Linked DNA regions of Homo sapiens. The protein of the gene in region 1 interacts with the protein of each later gene in a pairwise test. Each region holds a gene or a part of one and is shown on either strand. Other genes may lie near its edges.

The links. Proteins that work in one complex are often made in the same cells at the same time.
Region 2: the proteins of TEX11 (region 1) and CFAP53 interact in a two-hybrid assay, tested with the Homo sapiens proteins (one large-scale study listed by BioGRID and IntAct).

The regions. Positions count from the first base shown.
Region 1 is NC_000023.11:70,898,712-70,902,211, forward strand, and holds part of TEX11 (testis-expressed protein 11), read right to left. Parts: intron 1-3,500. UniProt on the Homo sapiens protein: Regulator of crossing-over during meiosis. Involved in initiation and/or maintenance of chromosome synapsis and formation of crossovers.
Region 2 is NC_000018.10:50,252,996-50,256,495, reverse strand, and holds part of CFAP53 (cilia- and flagella-associated protein 53), read left to right. Parts: exon of another isoform or gene 1-731; intron 732-3,500. UniProt on the Homo sapiens protein: Microtubule inner protein (MIP) part of the dynein-decorated doublet microtubules (DMTs) in cilia axoneme, which is required for motile cilia beating.

The DNA of each region.
Region 1 (3,500 bases):
TCTCCTGCCTCAGCCTCCCGAGTAGCTGGGACTACAGGTGCCCGCCAGCACACTCAGCTAATTTTTTGTATTTTTAGTAGAGACGGGGTTTCACAGTGTTAGCCAGGATGGTCTCGATCTCCTGACCTCATGATCCACCAGCCTCGGCCTCCCAAAGTGCTGGGATTACAGGCGTGAGCCACGGCACCCGGCCATAAACTGTACTATTCCCCCTAATAGGTGCATACCAGGTGGCATCAGTGATTATCTCACTGATTATCTGTAAGATTTCTGTACAGGCTGTAAAATAAGTATGCTCATGATTCTAAACTATGTGGCCCTGTCTTGGGATATTTCCTAATAACTCTGTCATTCTTAATCTGAGGATCCCATTGTTGTATTTAAAGGAAAAGATAGTTCAGGGAAGATTACAAATAAAGTCCTTTGAGATTCAATGAAAGCCAATTATCTTGACTGAGTTTTACTACTAAACTTTTTAGTCTAGATCTGCACTCTCTAATATGGTAGCAATATATGGCTACTGAGCACTTAAAATGTGGCTAGTTCAAATTGGGATGTGCTTTAATTGTAAAATACACATGGGTTTCAAAGACTTAGTTTAAAATAAGAAAGTAAAATATCTCAGCAATTTTGTATACTGATTATATGCTGGAACAAAAATGTATGAATATGCTGGGCTATAGCATTAAAATTATTATTATATTAAAAATTAATTTCACCTATTTATTTTTACTTTTTAAACGTGATTACTAGAAAATTTTAAGTTACATTTCTAACTCACATTATATTTCTACTGGACAGGGCTGGTATTGAGTATACATTGGAACTATATTCTGAAGACTTGATGAAACAAATTAGCTAATGTCTACCTCCCTAACAATCATCATAAATATAATAGAAAAAGAAAATATAGAGGCTGGGCACCGTGGCTCACACCTGTAATCCCAGCACCTCCTGTAATCTGGAGGCCGAGGCAAGCAGATCACTTGAGCTCAGGAGTTCAAGACCAGCCTGGGCAACATGGCAAAATCCAGTCTTTACAAAACATACAAATATTAGCCAGGCGTGGTGGTGCATACCTATACGTTCATGCCACTGCACTCCAGCCTGGGTGACAAAGAGAGGTCCTGTATTAAAAAAAAAAAAAAAAAAAAAAAAAGGACCAGGTGTGGTGGCTCATGCCTGTAATCTCAGCATTTTGGGAGGCTGAGGCAGGCAGCTCACCTGAGGTCAGGAGTTTCACCATGTTGGCCAGAACAGCCTGGCCAACATGGTGAAACCCGGTCTCTACTAAAAATATTTTTTTAAAAATAGCCAGGAGTGGTGGTGCACGCCTGTAATCCCAGCTACTTGGGAGGCTGAGGCACGAGAATCACTTAAACTTGGGAGGCAGAGGTTGCAATGAGCCGAGATGGTGCAACTGCACTCCAGCCTGGGCAACAGAGTGAGGCTCTGTCTCAAAACAAACAAAAAATTAATTAATTAATTAGTTAAAATAAAAATACAAAAATTAGCCAAGTGTGATGGTGGGTGCCTGTAATCCCAGCTACTTGGGAGGCTGAGGCAGGAGAATCGCTTGAACCCGGGAGGCGGAGGTTGCAGGGTCACAGTGAACAGAGATCGTGCCACTGCGCTCCAGCCTGGGCTACAGAGGGAGACTCTATCTCAAAAAAAAAAAAAAAAAAAGAAGAAGAAGAAGAAAATTGAAAATTTTCTTGAAACAAATGATAATGGAAACACAGCATACCAAAACGTATGGGATACAGAGTGAAGTTTATCACTATGAGTGCCTACATCAAAAAAGAGGAAAAACTCCGAACAACCTAATGATGCATCTTAAACAACTAGAAAAGCAAAAGCAAACCAAACCCAAAGTTAGTTGAAGAAAAGAAATAATAAAGACCAGAATAGAAATAAACGAAATTAAAATGAAAATATATATATATAAAAGATCAGTGAAGCCCAGTAGTGGTGACTCATGCCTATAATCCCAGCAGTTTGGGAGGCTGAGGTGGGTGGATCACTTGAGGCCAGGAGTTCGAGAGCAGCCTGGCCATCACAGCAAAACCCTGTCTCTACTAAAAATACAGAAATTAGCCTGGCATGCCTGCAGTCATAGCTACTCAGGAGGCTGAAGCACAAGAATTGCTTGCGCCTGGGAGGTGGAGGTTGCAGTGAGCTGAGATTATGCCACTGCACTCCAGCCTGGGCAATGGAGTGAGACTCTGCCTCAAAAAAAGAAAGAAAGAAAAATCTAGAAAAAAGGCCAGTAGGCAGGCAGATCGCTTGAGCTCAGGAGCTCAGGAGACCAGCCTGGGAAACATGGTGAAACCCTGTCTCTACCAAAAATACAAAAATTAGTCAGGAATGGTGGCGCATGCCTATATTCCCTCAGGAAACTGAGGCGGGAGGATCGCTTGAACCTAGGAGGATAGCGCCACTGCACTACAGCCTGGCAATAGAGTGAGACCTTGTCTAAATAAATAAATAAATACTTAAAAAAGACTGAGGGATTTGGGGGGCAAAAAGTTCAAAATGAATAACTAGCGTGGTATGAAAGAAAGAAAAAGCAAATTCAGTCTTAGCTATATTATTATCTAAAGAGAAAAATCATCAGTCCTAAATCTAAAGAGAAAGATTACAGGCGTGCATCACTTAAGGACAGGGATACATTCCAGAAATGTGTAATTTGGTGATTTTTGTCATTGTCCCAACATCATAGAGCAGTGGTCCTCAACCTTCTTGGCACCAGGGACCAGTTTTGTAGAAGACAATTTTTCCACGGATGGTGGGGGGATGGTTTCGGGATGAAACTGTTCTACCTCAGATCAACAGGCATTAGTTAGATTTTCATAAGGAGCATGCAACCTAGATCCCTCGTGTGGGCAGTTCAGGCTCCTGTGAGAATCTAATGCCACTGGCCACTGATCTGACAGGAGGCGGAGCTCAGGCGGTAATGCTTGCTGGCCCAGGGCTCATCTCCTGCTGTGCAGCCAGGTTCCTAACAGGCCAGAGACAGGTAATGGTCCGTGGCCCAGGGGTTGAGGACCCCGTCATAGAGTGTACTTACACAAGATGGTATAGCCTACTACACATCTAGGCTATATGGTATAGCCTATTGCTTCTAGGCTACAAACCTATAACTCATGTTACTGTAGTGAATACTGCAGGCAACTGTAACACAATGATAAGTATTTGTGTATTTAAACATATCTAAACCTAGAAAAGGTAAGTAAAAATATAAAAGATTAAAAATGACTGGGTACGGTGGCTCACAGCTGTAATCCTAGCACTTCGGGACACCGAGGAAGGAGGATCGCTTGAGCCCAGGAGTTCGAAACCAACCTGGGCAACATAGGGAGATCCCGTCTCCACAGAAAAATTAAAAATTATCTGGGCATGGTGGTGCATGCCTGTGATTCCCGGCTACTCAAGATGTTGAGGTGGGAGGATTACTTGGGCCCAGGAGGTAGAAGCTGTGGTGAGCCACGATCACACCA
Region 2 (3,500 bases), on another chromosome or scaffold:
CGCACAGGGCCAGACGCGACTTGCCACCCTCCTTGGCTTGTAGATGGATAACTGAGTTCTACAGGTAGGGATTTGTCTAGGTCTTAAGCTTGAGGTAACCAAAAGAGGATTAGACTTGGATTTTCAAGCCTGTGTAAAGCATGCACTCATACCCTGTCCTCAGTGGGATTTGGACATCTTTGCTACTGGTTGCTGGGGGGAAAAGATGCTGTGGGTGGAAAATGGTATATTAGCCAAGTGACTCTCAATGGACCATTCATATATTTTCTACTCCCTAGTAAATTTATCTTAACATATTAAGAAAACAAAATGGTTCGTAAGTGGTTGTGCTTTTAAAATTTATGGATTTAGCAACATTTTACAGATTTCACTTGTATGACTGAGTTTTTGCTAGTTAGATGAATTGTTAAAAATCTTAAAGAAACGAATGTATCCTATAGTAATATAATTTGAAAACAAATTGTTTTTAGTGTTTTGAATGAAGCACTGCCAACTCCTCAGCATAGATCCTCAGACATACTTTTGAGTAAGGATGCGTTATTAGACCCTATTACTGAAAATATAGTTGAGGCTTTAATATGTATATTAATATAAAGCAGAATGAAAATTTTCCTCTTTTTTTTTTTGTATTCCATTGTATAAATATACCACAATTTATTTCTTCTCCTGGTGACAGTCATTTCAGTTATTTTCAGTTTGGGACTCTTATGAATAAATCTACGATGAATAGACATGTCCTTTGATGGCATATGCATTCATTTCTCTTTGATATATTCAGTGGCATTCATAGAATATTTGATACCTGGAGTAGATCATTTTTAGTGATCCCTATCTTCTATACAGCAAAATTATTTTCAGCAATAATAATGAAATGAAATGGATAATAATGACAAGAAAAAATTACCAGTGGTTTTTTTTTGTATTTAATTTTTAATTTTAAATAATTATATATTTACAGAAAGTGCACAGATAGTACAGAGATCCCATTTACCCTTCACCTAGTTTCCCTCAATGGTTATATCTTACATAATTGTAATACAATATTAAGACAAGGAAACTGATAGTCATGGAAGGTGTGTGTAGAGTTCTGTGCCATTTTATCACCTGTAGACTGTGTAACCACCCTACAATCAAGATACAGAACTATTCCATCACTGCAAAAATCTCCTTCATGTTACTCTTCTAGAGTCATGCCCACTACTCTCACCCCCATCATTCCTAACCCTGGCAACAACTAATCTCTATCCCCATAATTTCATCATTTTAAGAATGTTATATAAATGGAATCACACAATATGTGATCTTTAGAGATTGGCCTTTTTCACTCAACATAATGCCTTTGAGGTCCATCCAAGTTGTTGGAGGTATTGTTAGTTTGTCTTTTTTATTGCTGAGTAGTATTCCATTGCATGAATGTACCTCAGTTTGGTTAAACCGTTCACTTACTGAAGGACATTTTGGTTGTTTCTAGTTTTGCTCTATTATAAGTAAATCTGACAGGAACGTTTGTGTACAGGTTTTTGTGTGAACATATGTTTTTGTTTATTGAGGATAATTATCATATACTATTGCTGGATCATATGCAAATTTGTTTTGTTTTGTTTGAGACAGAGTTTCACTCTTGTTGCCCAGGCTGGAATGAAATGGCGTGATCTCGGCTCACTGCAGCCTCTGCCTCCTGGGTTCAAGTGATTCTCCTACCTCAGTCTCCCGAGTAGCTTGGATTACAGGCATGCACCAACCAAGCCCGGCTAATTTTTTGTATTTTTAGTAGAGATGCAGTTTCTCCATGTTGGTCAGGCTGGTCTTGAACTCCCGACCTTAGGTGATCCGTCCACCTTGGCCTCCCAAAGTGCTGAGATTACAGGCGTGAGCCACCACTCCCAGCCATAAATGTAATTTTTTCTTTTTTAATAAACACTAAACTATTTCCTAGAGTAGCTGTACCATTTTATAATCCCACCAGCGGTATATGAGAGATCCAGTTTTTCCACATCCTGGTCCTTTTGGTAGTGGCGTTATTGTTTTGTTTTGTTTTGTTTTTATTTTTAGCTGTTCTAATAGGCGTGCTGTGATATCTCATCATGGGCTTAATTGGCATTTACCTAATGGCTGGTGATGTTGAGCAACTTTTCATGTGCTTATTTTCCATCTGTACATTTTCTTTGGTGAAATGTCTCTTTATATCTTTTGCCCATTTCTAATTAGATTTTTAGAATTTAGCTTGTTTTAGCTGCTAAGTTTTTGCCTTTTTTTTTTTTTAGCTGTTAAGTTTTAAGGATTCTTTATGTATTCTAGACAGTACTTCTTTGTCCGATACGTGGTTTTTTTCCTAGACTATAGCTTATCTTTTTTTTTTAAATGGTTTTTTCTTTTCTTTCCCCAGACATTCAGCAGTCTTGTCTTATTTATCCTATTAAAAGGATCTTTTACAGAGCAAAAGCTTTTAATATTAATGAAATCAAATTTGTCAATATTTCTTTTATGGATTGTGCTTTTGGTACATTATGAAATTTCTTTTTAAATGCCCTGTAATTATACATGGTTAATGATTAGACCCCAGATTAAGGTAGGCATTTCGAGGGTTTGTTTTGGGGTGTTTTTATTAACGAATACCCTAGGATGTTTGGTCAGAATGCCTGTGGATCAGAGGTAGTCTTGCCTCTGTCAGTTGCTGGCAGAGGTGATGCAATGAAACACCAAAGAATCCAGACTCCAGGGCCACACTGCCAGCTCTTCAGTCCCAGTTCTACCACATATGAAATGGACAAACTTAGGTAAGATGCTTAACTGCTGTGTGCTTCCATTTCCTCATCTGTAAACCAAGGACAATAAAAATAATAAAAATAAATTTGCAGTAATGTTCATTGCCATATTGATTATTATGAAGATTACAAGAGTTCATATGTGTTAAAGTGCTTAGAATAGTGTCTGGCAGATAATAAGCACTTAATAACTTTTGCTAATAATATTCCTACTACTGGTTATGTGACTTGGGAAGACACTTAGGCTCCCTGAGTCTCTGTTGCTTTAACTCTAAGATGGGGATGATACCTGCTACCTGCAAACTATAAAGCACTCACAAACATAAAGTTTTCCTCTTATCAATGATTATTATCATTAGAATAAATAAATATTCTGTCTATCATTTAATTTATTTTTTTAGAAACTGGGTCTTACGGCTGGGCGCAGTGGCTCACGCCTGTAATCCCAGCACTTTGGGAGGCTGAGGCGGGTGGATCACAAGGTCAGGAGATCAAGACCATCCTGGGTAACACGGTGAAACCCCGTCTCCACTAAAAATACAAAAAATTCTCCAGGCGTGGTGGTGGGCGCCTGTGGTCCCAGCTACTCCGGAGGCTGAGGCCGGGGAATGGCGTGAGCCCGGGAGGCAGAGCTTGCAGTGAGCCGAGATCGTGCCACTGCACTCCAGCCTGGGCGACAGAGCGAGACTCCGTCTCAAAAAAAAAAAAAAAAGAAACAGGGTCTTACTGACCTAG